Homo sapiens: one gene and its partners. The protein of the gene in region 4 interacts with the protein of the main gene of each other region in a biochemical or structural test. Each region holds a gene or a part of one and is shown on either strand. Other genes may lie near its edges. The genes, in order: SIN3B, CBX5, NR4A2, SMARCA2 and CDX2.

Evidence for each region.
Region 1: the proteins of SMARCA2 (region 4) and SIN3B form a complex in vitro, tested with the Homo sapiens proteins (one study listed by BioGRID).
Region 2: the proteins of SMARCA2 (region 4) and CBX5 form a complex in vitro, tested with the Homo sapiens proteins (one study listed by BioGRID).
Region 3: the proteins of SMARCA2 (region 4) and NR4A2 form a complex in vitro, tested with the Homo sapiens proteins (one study listed by BioGRID).
Region 5: the proteins of SMARCA2 (region 4) and CDX2 form a complex in vitro, tested with the Homo sapiens proteins (one study listed by BioGRID).

What each region holds. Positions count from the first base shown.
Region 1 is NC_000019.10:16,870,878-16,874,398, reverse strand, and holds part of SIN3B (paired amphipathic helix protein Sin3b), read right to left. Parts: intron 3,171-3,521; coding exon 3,001-3,170; intron 1-3,000.
Region 2 is NC_000012.12:54,230,438-54,232,799, reverse strand, and holds the end of CBX5 (chromobox protein homolog 5), read left to right. Parts: 3' UTR 1-1,858; downstream 1,859-2,362. UniProt on the Homo sapiens protein: Component of heterochromatin that recognizes and binds histone H3 tails methylated at 'Lys-9' (H3K9me), leading to epigenetic repression. In contrast, it is excluded from chromatin when 'Tyr-41' of histone H3 is phosphorylated (H3Y41ph).
Region 3 is NC_000002.12:156,326,813-156,329,725, forward strand, and holds part of NR4A2 (nuclear receptor subfamily 4 group A member 2), read right to left. Parts: coding exon 2,511-2,913; intron 1,722-2,510; coding exon 1,592-1,721; intron 1,203-1,591; coding exon 1,039-1,202; intron 109-1,038; coding exon 1-108. UniProt on the Homo sapiens protein: Transcriptional regulator which is important for the differentiation and maintenance of meso-diencephalic dopaminergic (mdDA) neurons during development.
Region 4 is NC_000009.12:2,186,340-2,189,860, reverse strand, and holds part of SMARCA2 (SWI/SNF-related matrix-associated actin-dependent regulator of chromatin subfamily A member 2), read right to left. Parts: intron 1-3,521. UniProt on the Homo sapiens protein: ATPase involved in transcriptional activation and repression of select genes by chromatin remodeling (alteration of DNA-nucleosome topology).
Region 5 is NC_000013.11:27,966,501-27,970,537, reverse strand, and holds the start of CDX2 (homeobox protein CDX-2), read left to right. Parts: upstream 1-1,222; 5' UTR 1,223-1,531; coding exon 1,532-2,072; intron 2,073-2,244; exon of another isoform or gene 2,245-3,091; coding exon of another isoform or gene 3,092-3,281; intron 3,282-4,037.

The DNA of each region.
Region 1 (3,521 bases), on a different chromosome or scaffold from region 4:
GACCAGACCAAACCAGACCAAACCAAAACCAAACCAGACCAGACCAGGCCAGACCAAAACTAGACCAGACCAGACCAGACCAAAACTAGACCAGACCAGACCTGAACAAAACAGACCAGGCCAGACCAGCAAACCCTGCCCGGGTGTGAGAAACACACAGAAAAGACACGGAAAAATATGTTCCAAAGCAAACCCAGGAATGAGCTGAAGGTGGCCTGAGTGCAGGCTGTTCCTTTCCCCTAAATGCTTGGCTGTAAATACACTGCTACTCCTTTTACCTTTGCACTGAAGAAGGAAGGAATGGAAACAGCAGGGATCGTGGGGCAGACAGGGCTGTGTGAATCACCCGCCTGCACAGCCCAGGCCCTGGTCAGGGGACCACACTCCTTGGGGGTTCCATGTGCAGCTTTGTTGAATGGATACAATAACACCTGGACACGCATAGGTTTCAGACAGTACCTGGCACACAGCAAGTGCCCACTGAATGCCAACTGCTACTGCTAAAAAACAGCAATGCTAATTTTTAAGAAAAAGGGAGGCAGAGTCCAGACATGGCCTCGAGGCAGGTTACAAACAGTGTGGAGGGGCCCGCAGTGAGCACCTGGCCCAGGGAGATGCAGCTGGGGTGTGGTGCAGCCACAGCTGGGACAGCAGGGCAGCATGTGGCTCTCACTACAGCTCCAGCCAGACAGCCCCATTTTCATTGCTTTGTTTTTAACAGGTTCTAGAGGAGTTGTTTATGGAAGGGGGGGATTTTTTTAAAGCATTAATCAATGCTTTCCATAAACCATCTGGTCCAATCTCCTGGTGTCACAAGCAAGGTTGCTGTCCCCGAAGCCATGGCCCATGAGGGGTGCCCAGCCTGGGGGGGGGGGGAGGGGACAGACTGCCAGCCCCCTGGCGTCCCCTGCGTCACTTCCCCAACACCATGTGCTGGGCCCTGGGTGTCCTCTCTCCAGGCTGCCCCGTGCGTGTTTCCCTCACCTGGGGAGTGGCCACTGCTGTGGATGGTGATGGGCAGGGACCCATTTCGGGCACACGGAGGGAAAGTGGAGGGGGCTGAAGCGAAGGTGTCAGAACGCAGCTATGGGTTTCACTAAGTCCTCATGGCCAGACACAGAAATCCTCCCAGTCACCAACAAGGCAGACGCAACGGAAACAGGCGCAAACACCGTGGATAGCTTTCCATGAGAAAAGATGTCCCAACGGCCATGAAAGGACAGGGCCCCAGCCACATTTGCCATCAGGGAAATGCAACGTGAGCCCACCGAGATTTGAACTCCCAGCTGATGGAGAGACGCCCCTGAGCCCCAGGGAGGACACAGAGTGCGGCCTCGCACAGCACTGGTACGAGTGACCCAGGAAACGGAAAGTTGCCATCAGCGGGACACACCTCTCTGTGCCTTACCCCAAGGGCAGCAGCAGAAATGTACATAGACGGCCACCGCAGACACACCCACGGGGCACCGCCCATGCCTGTCCTCAGGAGACAGGTGGACGGAATCGGGGGTCGTTCCTCGGAATCCTTGGCCGGTTCATCTCAACACAGGAATCTCACAGAATGACGCTCCCAGGATGCGGCTGGGCGCTGTGTGCTGCTGTTAACACACAGCTCGAGGCCAGGGATCTACCTCTCTGTAGAAATCAGGGTTGTGATGCCGGTGCGGTGGCTCACGCCTGTAATCCCAGCACTTTAGGAGGCCAAGGGAGGCGGATCACCTGAGGTCAGGAGTTCGAGACCAGCCTGCCCAACATGGTGAAACCCCCTCTCTACTAAAAATACAAAAATTAGCCAGGCGTGGTGGTGCGCACCTGTAATCTCAGCTACTCAGGAGGCTGAGGCAGGAGAATTGCTTGAAACCAGGAGGCAGAGGTTGCTGTGAGCAGAGATTGTGCCATTGTACTCCAGCCTGGGAGACAAGAGCAAAACTCTGTCTCAAAAAAAAAAAAAGAAGAAGAAGAAAAAGAAATCAGGGTTGTGGGTGTCCATGGGTGGCAGGTGGCTGGGTGGGGACACAGGGGCAGGGGTTCTGTTGATGAAAAGCCCATCCATCTGCCCCCTTCAAATTTGGGGACTTTTCTGCTTGGGTATTTTAGCTCCATTAAGCAGTCTTTAAAACCTGGAAGGAAACGTCCTGTCTGAAATGCTTCTCGTGGCTGTGTCTGGGTGGGAGAGTAATGGCATTATTTTTTTTCCAGCTTTTTTTCCACTTTATGATGAACAGCCTTACTTGGTGACCAGGAAATGGAGGTCACCATGAACAATGATTCTGGCAGAAACCAGGCAGGACCCATGTCCTGGAACCACACCCAGCTCGTCTGGGACGTCTGCTGTTTATATTTACGTGACCAGTTTCCTTGTGTTGACATTCAGTGGGGCCTGGGTTTTTGCTACTACTAAAACCAACGCAGATGAAATCACTATTCCCACCCTCCCTCAGGATAAGTGGGTTAAGGTTTTTTCCATGTTGTCAATTTAACCTCAAGAAAGGTTTGTCAACAGGGACACGGAACAAAAACTTGTACACAAATGTTCAGAGCAGCATTGCTCACAATCTCTATAAGGCAGCCACAGCCCAGATGTCCACCAAGAGATAGAAACAAAACGTAGCTACCCACGCAATGGAGTATTACAGAGCCATAAAAAGGAATGAAGCACGAGGGAAATACAGAGGCAGAAAGCAGTTGACTGGATGTCAGGGGCTCGGGGCAGGGGAATGGGCAGTGGCTGCTGATGGGGATGGGGTCTCCTTTTGGAAAGATGAAATGTTCTGGAACTAGACAGAGGTGGTGGTTGCACAATATTGTGAATGTACCAAATGTTACCAAACTGTACACTTCAAAATGGTTAATTTTACGTTATGCGAATTTTGTCTCAATTAAGAAAAAACAGGATAGGTTTGCTGTGCTGACCACGGGCCCCCTCCCGAGCGGGGAGTGAAATGATGGTAGAGCCATTTCCGCCGTCCTCAGGGCCGGCCCCACCCCGGCCCGGCTCACCTGCCGCGCAATGTTCTGCACCAGCTTGTCCATGGTGAAGCCCACGTAGGCATGGATGGTGAACATCTCGCGTAGGGTGTCCTCGTACTGCGTGGGGTCGATGCTGCCCTCCAGCAGGCTCCGCACCATGTCCAGGAAGGCCGGGTAGTACTCCTCCAGCTCCACTTCACCTGCGGAGACACACCGCCTCATCCATATGCCTCCTGGAGAGCGCAAAGTCACGCAGGCCAAACTCTGGCATGACAGAGCCCCAACAAATGCCCCCATGGGGCCCAACAGCCCTCACCTGCCACCCCTGGGGCAAATGTGGGAATCACCAGGAAACCCGAGTAGCTGGTGTTCACTGCCACCCTCCGAGGCTGCCTAATCTGGCCGGCAACCCAGGGATGGCAGCGAGAATGCTGTGGAGGCCAGGCATGGTGGCCCATGCCTGTAATCCCAGCACTTGGGGAGGCTGAGGCAGGCGGATCACCTGAGTTCAGGAGTTTGAGACCAGGTTGGCCAACATGGTGAAATCCTGT
Region 2 (2,362 bases), on a different chromosome or scaffold from region 4:
GTTAAAGATGTAATTTTATTTTCAAAACATCTATAACATGACTTTCAGAAGCAGTTCATTTTTCCAAGATTCCTCACATTATACTAGATAAATAATAGGCCCTCAGTTAATACCCTTCAGTTATTGAATTAATCTAGTTTGTGGAATGAGGTGTATCCTGCCAACTTCCCTCTGCTCCCAAGTACACTCTGAGAGGTAAAATGCTCTGGGAAATGGAACAAGAATCGAGTGGATGCTGACTCTGTGTGCCCACCTCCTCAACTGATTGATAATGGTTGACCTTGGGCAAGTCACTTCTTTCAATGCCTCAGTTCCCCATCTGTCAAATGGGGTTAATAATACTGACCTACCTCACAGGGGTGTTGTTGTGAGGCATTGTAAATCAAAGTTAATAGAATACTTCAGGGTCCTCTGTGGAGGATGTCTTGAGCCAGAGTTTAAGCCTGACACACAGGCTTTGGTCCTCACTGAGCTGTCTCCAAGACTGGAACTACTTAGTGACTCGGCAAATTTTCTGCCCCCCACCCCTCATCAAAGCTGCTAGTTCAGATGTTGACAGTGTTTTCATGAATGTTGGAATCTTACTAGTCCAGACTTACTTAGGATGTTGTTGGGGAAGGCACTTGGGATTTTCTGTGTCTTGCATTCACAGAGGGAGGCCATTTCAGATTCAAGAGCATTGGATTAGGGAATCGTGAGGCAGGGATGCTACTGCGTATTTCTCTCTGCAGGTTGGGGATTAAAGTTCCTTTCCCCATGGGTTTGAAGCAGACTCAGACTGTCTCAGGATCAAAGCAACCCTCAATGGTTTTGATTTATGTCATTGCTTACCACTCCCCAACCAATCCCAGGACAGCTGGGTCACTGTACCCCTTTGTGGTATCTGTACCTGGGCCTCTCCTTCCTCATAGGGACCAGCTGATTGAATAAATGTGACCACCTTATTTCCACCCCCCACCCCCAAAAGCTACATTGGAATTATTTTTCCTAGAAATGTGTATAACACTCAGAATTGGGCATTGATCCTTAAAGCTTCATCCCATTCACCGTATTCAACATCTGTCATCTCTTAGTGTCTGCAGTCTGAACCTAACCTTGACCTTTTTTCCCTCTGGTTTGAGAAAACTTTGGACACTATTTCTACTTGGCCAGGTGTGGGCTCAAGAGCCTTACTCTTTCCATCTCAGTTTAGGGGCGCAGCCAGCTCCTCTTCCCAATAGGGCTCTTTCTGCTTTCCCTCTCCTTGGCCCTAGATTTGTAATCCATGAAAAAGCACAAGGTCCTGGCTCCTTGCGGTCACATTCTGGTTCTCTGTGTTTTGTGGACTCTGCTCTCACTGTTCACCCAGCACTAGCAGTACCAGATGGTTCTGTGGAGTCCTGGGGAATGGAGAGAGCACAGTCTGACTCCCTGCCAAGTAGCCAGGAGTTGACTTGCCCATGGTCCGCTGGCTTTCCCACCACTTCCTACAGGATGGGATCTAAGAGACTCAAGAGCTGGGTTTCTTTCAGCACTCTGTACTGTCCCAAATAGCAAACAAATCACTTTGTAGCCAGATTTCTGAATGGAAATGAGAAATTGAATTCTCCATGGACTTTTAGGTTTATGGGGGAGTTTTAGCTGTGTTTCTTGGTTTTATTTCAGCCAAACATGTCTGCTTTTGATTTTTTTTTTAAAGTATAAGTGGTCTATATATATGTTCACCTTTTAAATGTAAATGTTTAAAAAGTAAGCATTTATGTGTTTCCATAACTGACATCTGATGCAGACCTCATTCTCTCCCCCTCTTCTACCCTCCTCTTTTCCCCCTTTTCATACTCTTGTATTGGTTCTAATAAATGGTTGCTTTTCAAATATGGATTCTGAGTGGTGGTTTAAAGATCTGGGTCTTATGCCCCTTCTTTAATTTGGGCCCTGGAGTGTCAGCTCAATTTCTGAAAGAGCAACAAGACTTGGAGAACATGGGCTTCTTTTCTAAGGATTATTGGTCTCTGACTTTCTGCAAATAACCACAGGTTGGCGCAAGCCTGAGGAAATAAGATAATGCGTATCCTGTTTCCTACTCTTATTTCCTTAACTGGTTCAGTGTGTACCTTTCCTGGTTTCCATGCTCTTCTCTGCTCCTAATGGTTCAGAGAATAAATATTAGGCTTCAGCAACCTAGGGATCCCTGGAAGAGTCATCTCATGGCTATTAGAACTTATGGAATACCACATCAAGCAAATGCAGTCTAAATCAGGTTTGAAAATATGTGAATTTGTAAACTTTGTATTTTATCTTTCTGATTTGCTTCACAAATACCAAAGAAACTTCTCTGAGGATGGAAGGCTTGCAGGTCAGGAACATGGTGTGAGGTCAGTTG
Region 3 (2,913 bases), on a different chromosome or scaffold from region 4:
CTCTGCCCAGCCCCGGATGATCTCCATGGAGCCAGTCAGGAGATCATAGAATTGCTGGATATGCTGGGTGTCATCTCCACTCATTTGATAGTCAGGGTTCGCCTGGAACTGGAATTTCATTTTAAAAAGCACTTAATGAGGTTCTCTAAAATATATAACCCGTGAAATTGCTAACCCCGTTTCTAATAGGGGAGCCAGGTTTTTATAACAATTAAACCTCTCTCTGACCAGTAAGGAAATTAGATGTTCCGGGGCAATTAATTCAATTAGGGATGGTGCTACGAGGTCGCTGCTTTAAATATGTAAATTGCCATTTCCATACAGACTAAATACAGTGCCATCCAGCCCTGGGAAACGTTCACTCTTATCTCCACAAAACAATTGACATGTTAGTATTCATGCTAGTCCCAGAGTGGGCCTCGAGCTGAGACGCCCTTTTGCAAATCTTAATAAAATTGCAGTCCCTACCAGGTTTGCTCAACATACTTCCTCCAATTAAAGCCCGCATATTTTTCACAGCTGGAGTAAAAAGGATCTGACCACTTGATCCCCCACCCCACTGGCATTCTTTACACCCTCTCCTTCCCTTCCCTGACCCCCAGACAGGCCCCCACATCCTTCCCCAGCACAGTGCCAGGAAGGATGAGGATTAAAGCATCTATCTCTATGGAGGACTGGGAATAAAGTAGATTGGGAAGGGGGAGAGTTTGCACAGCCCCTGGATTTCATGGTAGAGGCACTGGTGTATATGGAAGAGGAGGGGCGATGGGGTAGTGGGGTAGTGGGAATTCACACAGCTTCAAACCCTGTGGCGTGTCCCTCTCCTCCTTCCTCCATCCTGTCCTCATGTCTATGCCCCCAGCTACATGGATTGTCTGAAGATCTGAATCTTGAGGCCCTGGCCAGAGCTGCGAGGCATATACAGCCTTGCTTGCCTTCTTTACCCCCGTTGAATCTGAGAGTTAATGACGGATGTGGGGAGGGGTCCTGCCCATCTGTCGGTTTGTCCACATGATATCCCCCCCGCCAGCTTCTTACCCTGGAATAGTCCAGGCTGGTCATAGCCGGGTTGGAGTCGACATGGGCCCTGACGAGGGCACTGATCAGACTCACCGGGGGCGAAGGGGGAGAGGGCTCCTGTGGGCTCTTCGGTTTCGAGGGCAAACGACCTCTCCGGCCTTTTAAACTGTCTGTGCGAACCACTGCAAAGGAAGAGCCCTGTTAGCGCCGCTTTTCCGAGCCCAGGCCCAGCTGCTGCCTCGGTCCCTCCCCGGGGAAGGCCGCAGCCGCGGGGCACCAGGCTGAGCGGCTGAGGGCCCCAGTGCTTGTAAAGCCTTCACTGACTAGAAGCATTAAAAAATGCGGGGTTATTTTATGTCTTCCTCCAAATGGGTCGTATAGTTAAAGGAGAGAAGGGCCTGGCGGCTTTCTCTAGGGAAGGCCGGGCAAGCAGGCAGCTGCAGGGTCCTGGAGGCCATACTGAGGGGGAGTCGGAGATCCCCAGCACCGGGAAGTGGAACGTGATGCTGGAGTATGAGCAGTGGTTTCCTAAAGGCGCAAACTGGAGGGTCGGCAGCTCCCCTCAGCCTACCTTCTTTGACCATCCCAACAGCCAGGCACTTCTGAAATCGGCAGTACTGACAGCGATTCCGGCGACGCTTGTCCACTGGGCAGTTTTTATTTGCTAAACACACGTATTTTGCATTTTTTTGCACTGTGCGCTGCAAAAGGAGACAATATAGACCAACATTTTTTTTCTTCTTTTGAAAATCAGGCAACTCGGAGAAAATTTCTGTTATGTGACTGGGGTCTACGATTCCTCCCCACAAACAAACACATACACACAATTCCATTTTATTTTTTTCTCTTCCTTTTCTTTCTTTCTTTTCTTTTTTCCTCCCCCAGGGCATTTAACAGAAGAAAATTGATAGCGTTAACATTTGAGCTAACCTTGCCGCTCCTTGCTGTGTTTTATATGCCAAGAGAAGGAGAAGGAGACGCTCAGTAAATACAAATCCGTGGGCATTCATATTATTTACATTCCTTGGAGACCTTCTCTATTTAAAATGATAAGATTATTCAATCAGGATGGCGAAATAAAGAGATCACTTAATTTGACCATAGGGAATTCTGTTCCACTTGGTTAGCTCAGACACGGTTCTCTGTCCTAACCAATTTCATTCTGAACAGGGAAGACAGCTCCTAGCACATGCAAATGACCCTCTTCCAACTCCGGCTCCAGCAACTTCGGGCGGGGGCCAGCCGGGTCGGCTGAATGCGAGGGGGATGCGACCCTGGCCTCCCAGTCTTTCTGCTTCCCTTTCTCAGACACCCGGAAGTCCCCGCCGCAGCCCATGGTCTCCTGCAGGGCAGCTTCGGCGGACCCCGGAGAGCTGGGCAGTCCCGGGAGAGCTGGGGCTGGGCTACTGGCACCAAGGCAGAGGGCACACTCCGAGGTCCCGGGCACTAGGGGCTCCCTACCTGCCTACTCCGCTCCCGCCATTGCTCACCTTAAAGAAGCCTTTGCAGCCCTCACAGGTGCGCACGCCGTAGTGTTGGCAGGCCGCGTTGTCCCCACACACAGCGCACAGCCCCTCGTTGGAGGGGGAGCCCCGCGACGGCGGTGAGGGCACCTGCGTGTCGAGCAGCTGAGACGCGTGGCCGATCTGCAGGCCCGGGAAGCCCATGGACGCGGGCTTGCGAATGGGGTTGGGCACAGCGAAGGTCTGCCCGTCCACCACGTGGTGGCTGCCGGCGGGCTCCGGGTTCATGGGGACGTGCAGGGGCCCGTCGAAGCGCATCTGGCAACTAGACACCGGGGTGCCAGGGGGCGATTGCTTAAAGGAGAAGAGGGAGAGGCGGGAGACTGGCGTTTTCCTCTGCTCGATCATGTGCGTAGTGGCCACGTAGTTC
Region 4 (3,521 bases):
AAAACTAAAATCTCCCACAGAAACATAAGCTAACAGAAGAGATGAGAGCTGTGCTGTTATGAACTCAAGTGTGGTGGTAGCATTTGCCTTTCCTCCATTCCAAATCCTAATACACAAAATAGTACTCCTAGCCAAGGCTTCTATCTATTATACCCACTGTCTGCTGCTTGACAAGCTATAAGGTGGGGCCCTTTGCTTTGGGTGGAGTAACTTAGGAGAAGAAGAAGAGACTGGAGATGAAAAGGCCTACCTACTAATGAAAACGGAAAGATGTAGGACGTCGAAAGAAATAGATGAAAGAAGCCAGTCATAATGGGCATTTCTAAACAGTGTGGAAAGACAAAGTGAAATATGTCCATTTATACAGGTGTGGGCTCTCCCTGACACAGGAGTATAGGAAATGAATGGGCAGAAGACAGGCAATAGGGGTAAGAAAATGTATCCTTGAGAGCGTAATCTAAATGTGCCTTGGAGTGTGGCGCACTCTAATGCTGTCAGGCACGCGTCAGTGGATATGTCTCTCCAAAAAACCCACCTGACAGACTATGGACAAGCAGGCTAATAAACTGGACCATTAGGTGAGCCCTATAAACAGCTTCCTAAGGTTTTATGATACAACCATATGCACCTATGAAAAGTTCTAGCTACCAAGTGTGGTGGACAGAATATCATCTCCTCACAAGATGTCCATATCCTAATCCAAGAACCTCTGAATATGTTATATTACATGGCAAAAGGAATTTTAGACTGTTAATTGTCTGACCCTGAGATGGGGAAATTATAGTGGATTATCCAGGTGGGCCCAGTCTAATCATCTGCATCCTTAAACGTGGAAGAGGAAGACGCAAAAGAGAGATTCATGGAGACACAACATGAGAAGGACTGTACCTGTCATTGCTGGCTTTAAAGTTGGAACAAGGGGTAGGGGTGGGGAGGCAATGAGCCAAAGAACACTGTTGGGAACAGCCTTCCACTGGCAGCCAGCAAGAAAGTGGGAACTTTGTTTCTACGAACACAAGAAATTGAACTCTGCTGAGAACCAGGATGAACAAGGAAATGGGATTCCTATCTAGAGCATCCAGAAAGGAATGCAGGCTGCTGACACATTGATCTTAGTCCAGGGAGACTCATGCTGAACCTGTGACCCACAAGAGGTAATAAGTTTGTGTTGTATTAAAGTCACTAAGTTTGTGGTAATTTGTTATAGCAGCAATAGAAAATTAATATACCAAGGCTTGAGAAATTAAACTAAATTGATGGATGGGGGAAGAGAGCAGCTCTTTGAAAACAGATTAGAAATCTGGCTCTAAAATAATGAAATATATAGCTAAAATAGATGATGCAGATGTATTCAAATGCTAGAACAAAGGAATAACTACATGAATTTGGGACAGTTTAAATTCATAACAAATAAAAGGCAGAATCACTAACTAGAATATAGATAATAGAAAATGACGTTGGGAAAGAGTCGCTTATGTATGTTGAGGGCAAGAATGGAAACTCCATTCTCTGTGGCAATGTGTATACATCACATACATTTTACATCTTTTCAATAATCTATGGGTAAAATGCTCAGGACAGCATTATTGGGAAACAGCCTGATTAACAGAGTATAATTAACACGTTACAGTACATTCACATTCATTAATGAATGTTAATATGTATTATACATATTAATATATGTTGCTGTAGAAAAACCCTCATTGCCATGGAAAGTGTTCATAATAAGTACAAAAATCATTACATTTTCCAAATCATCTGTATTAACATGTAATTAGAAACCTAATAATTTTTTAAAAGCATGTCTATACTTTTAATATATTTGAAAAGGTAAAAAAACGTGTAATTCTATATCTCTACATACATGTAATATTTTGAGACGTTACCTTTTTTTCCACACATAAATTTGTTTATAAAAACATAGCACACAGTTTTGTGGCATGATTTTTGTACTTATTATGAATATATTGATCAGGCTTGTCTCAAACTGGTGACTTCAAGTGATCCAGCCACCTCAGCTTCCCAAAGTGCTAGGATTACAGGCATGAGCCACTGGGCTCGGCTTATACTGTAAAACATAGGTTTTAGTACTTTACTTTGAGAGGTATACAGTGAAGACACACATAGGAAAGAAGAAATTTTATGTTTTAAAATATTTATTAATTATATTTAAAATTTTTTTTTTAGATAGAGTTTTGTTCTGTTGCCCAGGCTGGAGGGCAGCGGTATGATCATAGCTCACTGCAGCCTTGAACACCTAGACTAAGCAATCCTCCTGCCTCAGCTTCCTGAGTAGCTGGGACTATAGACACGTGCCACCACACTTGGCTATTTCTTTTTACAAACATTTTTGTAGAGATAGGGTCTTGCTATGTTATCCAGGCTGGTCTTGAACTCCTAGCCTCAAGCTATCCTTCTGCCTCAGCCTCCCAGAGTGCTCGGATTATATTTGTGAGCCAACATGCCTCACTAAGAAGAAATTTTCAACTTCTGACAGCACCCTTAACCTTTGGAATATTTGGGTTATCAGTCACGGCTGGAACTAGGGTCAAACAATGGAGGCACGCACCTTGGGTGTAAAATTTAAGGGGGCACCAAAACCCAGTCATCAACTAATATCCTAAAAGGTAAATATTTTAAAAACCCAAATTAATGCCCCCCAAATCCATGATAAACAAACTATCAACATTTTAAATAAAGACAGTACCCTGTCATCACCCCTCTTCCCCTGGCAAAAAAAAAATTCTATGCAAAATTCACAGTTCCAACTCAGTTTGACAATTATTTTCTAAAGCTGTGATTCTCAAGGTGTGGTCCTTGGCCCAACATCATCAGTTCCCCCTGGGAATTTGCCAGAAATACGGATTCTCAGGCCCCACAACAGGCTACTGGATCAAACACTGGCATATTCTTCAAGCCCTCCAGGTTTGAGAACCACCGTGGTAAAGAAGAGAAGATAGGTGGCATTAGCAGCAGTGTTGTAGAAAATGTGTAGTAGGCTAATATTCAAAGGCAACATTCAGAAAGTGTTTGCAGGTCAGGTGTGGCGGCTTGTGCCTATAATCCCAGCACTTTGGGAGGCCGAGGCGGGTGGATCACGTGAGGCCAGGAGTTTGAGACCAGCCTTGCCAACATGGTGACACTCCATCTCTACTAAAAATATAAAAATTAGCCGGGCGTGGTGGCACACGCCTGTAATTCCAGCTACTCGGGAGGCTGAGGCAGGTGAATCACTTGAACCTGGGAGGTGGAGGTTGCAGTGAGCTACTGGGAGGTGGAGGTTGCAGTGAGCTAAGATCATGCCACTGCACTCCGGCCTGGGTGACAGAGTGAGACCCTGTCTCAAAAATAAATAAATAAAAGAAATAAAACAGTGTTTGCTAGGAGCCCAGCCTATGCTAAACATTTTACATGCTTGGAGGTCATTTTTATGACCTCAGTTTTATAGATGAGAAAACTGAGCATGAGCAGGGATAAGGACATGGCCACCGGTTGCCCAGCAAGGACAAAGTGGAATAAGG
Region 5 (4,037 bases), on a different chromosome or scaffold from region 4:
CTCCACGCGGTTGCTGAAACCGAGCTGGGCGCGCGCGGGGGCCGAATCTCGCCGCCTCCGCGCTCCTGTCGGGGCAGCTCCCGATCCCGGGCTGCGCGGCTTCGGTCCCCAAGACGGCCACTTCCAGCCCTAGGCCCCTTGGCCGCAGCGCTTCCCAAACCAAGAGAGATCCTTTCTCAACTCAGAGCTTTTCATTAGCAGTCGTTAATAATGGCCCTGAGTTGCCTTATCATCTCCTGGAAATGAGAAATAAATTTCTTCGGAGAACGTTTCCCTTTGTAAAGGACAGAGAGTTTTAAAGATACAGGTATGATGTAAGACACATAAATACCTAGGTAAGCATTAGCAGAAATTCTCTTTTCCTTATATTTAAGTATAATAAACATACAAGTGTAGCTCAATGAATTTTCACAAACTGACATTCTGTGTAACCAGCAGCCTAAGAAACTGCTTTACCAACGATCCCCTAGCTCGCCTCCAGTTATGCACGCCAATAACCACTAGCCTAACTTCTACCACATGCCCATTACTTCTGTAGTTTAAAACTTCTGATTCTTGAATGTAAACGTTTAACAATAAATCGCTTGAATTTAACTCAAATTTCAAATGTAAGATGAAGTCAGAGATGCAGCCTGAATCTAGGATCATAATTTGTCTTGTGCGGAGGGCGAGTAATTTCCTTGGGCAAGAAAATAACTGGAGGTGACAGTTGTTTGGGGCTGCAGTCGTCCGGGCCAGGAGCACAGGGCGGGAAGGAATGGCCCATCTCTTAGGGCTCTCTGCTTGTCACCTACCAGGTTGGTCAGAAACGTTCTCATCAAAGCAATGGTTCTCTTTTCTTTTCTCTTTGGGACAGAAGGAGTTTCTTGACCGCCCTCTTCCCTGCAAATGCATAAACAACCACTGCTCCTGTCTCCAAGCTCAGATTCCTACCAAGATAGCCTTTTCTCTTCCCCTCTCTTTTGTAAGTCTCTTGATTTCATTCTTTGAACCTGTGATTGGAGGTTAAAGTGCACCAGGTTGGAAGGAGGAAGCTCTTAACAATAAAGGTTTGAATATTTAGCTGTGTCAGGTCGCTGCCCTCTCACGAGCCTCCCTCCCCTTTATCTTTTAAAATGCAAATTATGTTTCGAGGGGTTGTGCGTAGAGTGCGCGCTGCGCCTCGACGTCTCCAACCATTGGTGTCTGTGTCATTACTAATAGAGTCTTGTAAACACTCGTTAATCACGGAAGGCCGCCGGCCTGGGGCTCCGCACGCCAGCCTGTGGCGGGTCTTCCCCGCCTCTGCAGCCTAGTGGGAAGGAGGTGGGAGGAAAGAAGGAAGAAAGGGAGGGAGGGAGGAGGCAGGCCAGAGGGAGGGACCGCCTCGGAGGCAGAAGAGCCGCGAGGAGCCAGCGGAGCACCGCGGGCTGGGGCGCAGCCACCCGCCGCTCCTCGAGTCCCCTCGCCCCTTTCCCTTCGTGCCCCCCGGCAGCCTCCAGCGTCGGTCCCCAGGCAGCATGGTGAGGTCTGCTCCCGGACCCTCGCCACCATGTACGTGAGCTACCTCCTGGACAAGGACGTGAGCATGTACCCTAGCTCCGTGCGCCACTCTGGCGGCCTCAACCTGGCGCCGCAGAACTTCGTCAGCCCCCCGCAGTACCCGGACTACGGCGGTTACCACGTGGCGGCCGCAGCTGCAGCGGCAGCGAACTTGGACAGCGCGCAGTCCCCGGGGCCATCCTGGCCGGCAGCGTATGGCGCCCCACTCCGGGAGGACTGGAATGGCTACGCGCCCGGAGGCGCCGCGGCCGCCGCCAACGCCGTGGCTCACGGCCTCAACGGTGGCTCCCCGGCCGCAGCCATGGGCTACAGCAGCCCCGCAGACTACCATCCGCACCACCACCCGCATCACCACCCGCACCACCCGGCCGCCGCGCCTTCCTGCGCTTCTGGGCTGCTGCAAACGCTCAACCCCGGCCCTCCTGGGCCCGCCGCCACCGCTGCCGCCGAGCAGCTGTCTCCCGGCGGCCAGCGGCGGAACCTGTGCGAGTGGATGCGGAAGCCGGCGCAGCAGTCCCTCGGCAGCCAAGGTAAGCAGAGGCTGCGCCCCTTCGGAGGGTGCTTGGGAAGGCGCGGGTCGAGCCAGTGGCTGCTGCGCGTCGCGCGTCCAGTGCGCACAGGGGCGTCCCGGGCTGTCTGGGAGCTCGGCGCCAGGAGGGGCACGGCCCGGAGACAAATTCGGGGGCCTCTGGCCCGTCGGGGCTTCTCTGACCTACTGAGCCTGGGAGTGAATATTCTGAGTCTCAACACCGTGTTCAGGCGTCCTCTTTCCAAGAGCTCCTCATTCGCAACCCCGGGACACCTTCGGGAAGCTCCGGGGAATGTCGGCGTGAGCACTGCTGGACGCCGGCAGAATCGCGTCCTCCGGCACTTGCTGCGGCATGCATTCCTTGCGTGGCTCCTGGCCGCCGAGGAGAGAGGGAGGCTCGAACCTTCTTGGGCTAGGTCTAGGCCATTTATCTCCGCTCTCTCTTTCCCCATCTGAGCCATCTAAGAAGAGAAGTGACCTGGGGGGGTCGGAGGATGGCTAGGCTGTGTGTGGGACCGGGTTTGGCCACTCGGGCCAATTCAAGGTACAGCGAGCAGGCAGACCAGGGAGAGCTGCTGTCGCTGGGAAGAAGGTGCTAGCCCCAGCTGCTAAGGCGACGGGGGCGCGCCCCGTCTCTGAACCTCTGACCTGTGAAGGGGTCATTTCAAGCAAAAGCTGGAAGGCTAGGGGCAAGAAGCCTAGGGGCAGGCGTCTGCGGAGAGAGCAGGGAGACGGGGAGGAAACCCTGGTGGGAATTAAGCCGCCGCTCCAGGTAGGGGTCATTTCTCCCAAAGCTTCCTTTCAAGGGTGTCAGGGATGTCTGTGAGTGTGTGTGTGCAACTGAAAAAGATCCTAGGTTTGCCGGACTGTGGGGCTCATTGACTCTGGGTCTGCCCCTTCTGGTGTTCGAGTGTGCCTAGAGGTGGCAAGGAAGTGCGGTGGGGAGAGTCCTAGTTGAGTGCCCCTTTTAAAGTCTTTCCCCAGCCCTCAGCGCTTCCGCTTTTCTTGCTTCGCTCCTTGATGCCCCAATTGGGCAGGCACGCTGGTTATGGGCACTTTGCAGAAGTTTATAGCCAATTACAACTGTATAAATCAAAGCGCCCTTTGGGGGCTGTCTCTGGGCATCGGTTTCTGCGTCACTGTGCACATGCTAGGGAGAGTCCTGGTGGGAATGCCGCCGACCGGGGAGAAGGCCACAGATCAGCCTCGGGTGAGCCTCAGAGCTTTGGCTTGGTCCCTTCTCCTAGAGGAGGCGCCTTTCTCCTAGCAGGGGCTCCCAGATCCTGGCTCCCAAAGACCCACTTTCTACAGCCCCTGTCTGGGGCGCGGTTGGCGGGGGTGGCGCACGCCCTAAGGAAGACCTTTGCGTGTCCCGGGAGAGCGGCCGCGGGGTGAGGGCCGGGAAGGGGGCGGGAGGGAAGCCGCCAGAGCCCAGGCCGCGGGGTCAGCAGATGAGAGGCCGCTGTGAAGTCCTGCGCCGAGGTGGCAAGGCCGCAGTCGGCGCCGGGTGCCCTTGTGATGTTAATGTGGGGTGGCCGCAGCCCGCGGGCCGGAGCCGGGCTCCTCTGCGGAGCGTCATCTGTCAAGGTGTGGGGGTGGAGGGGGGGACGCGGCCTGGCTTGCTTTGATATACACCTTCCCAGCCCTGCCATTGTCTCTTTTAGGGCCCGGAAAGAGGGTGGTGACTTTCGCAGTCAATAATGAATTCTGACAAGTCCCTCTCATCCCTCCCCTCCATAGCCCCGCTCCTAGGTTCCCAGGGGGTGTGGGGCGCCTCCAAGGCCCTTGGGGCATGGGTCGAAGAGCGCTCAGGGTCTGGTCATCGCGTTGCCCGGCACGTCCGGGACACTGAAGGGGCAGCACCCGAGCAAGGGTCGCTCCGAGACACTTCCAGGCGAGTCTCCCTCCCGGGGTGTTCGGCTGAGGGAACTGCCCTGCGCCTCAGCTCCGGAGGTGTCCTCTGTGG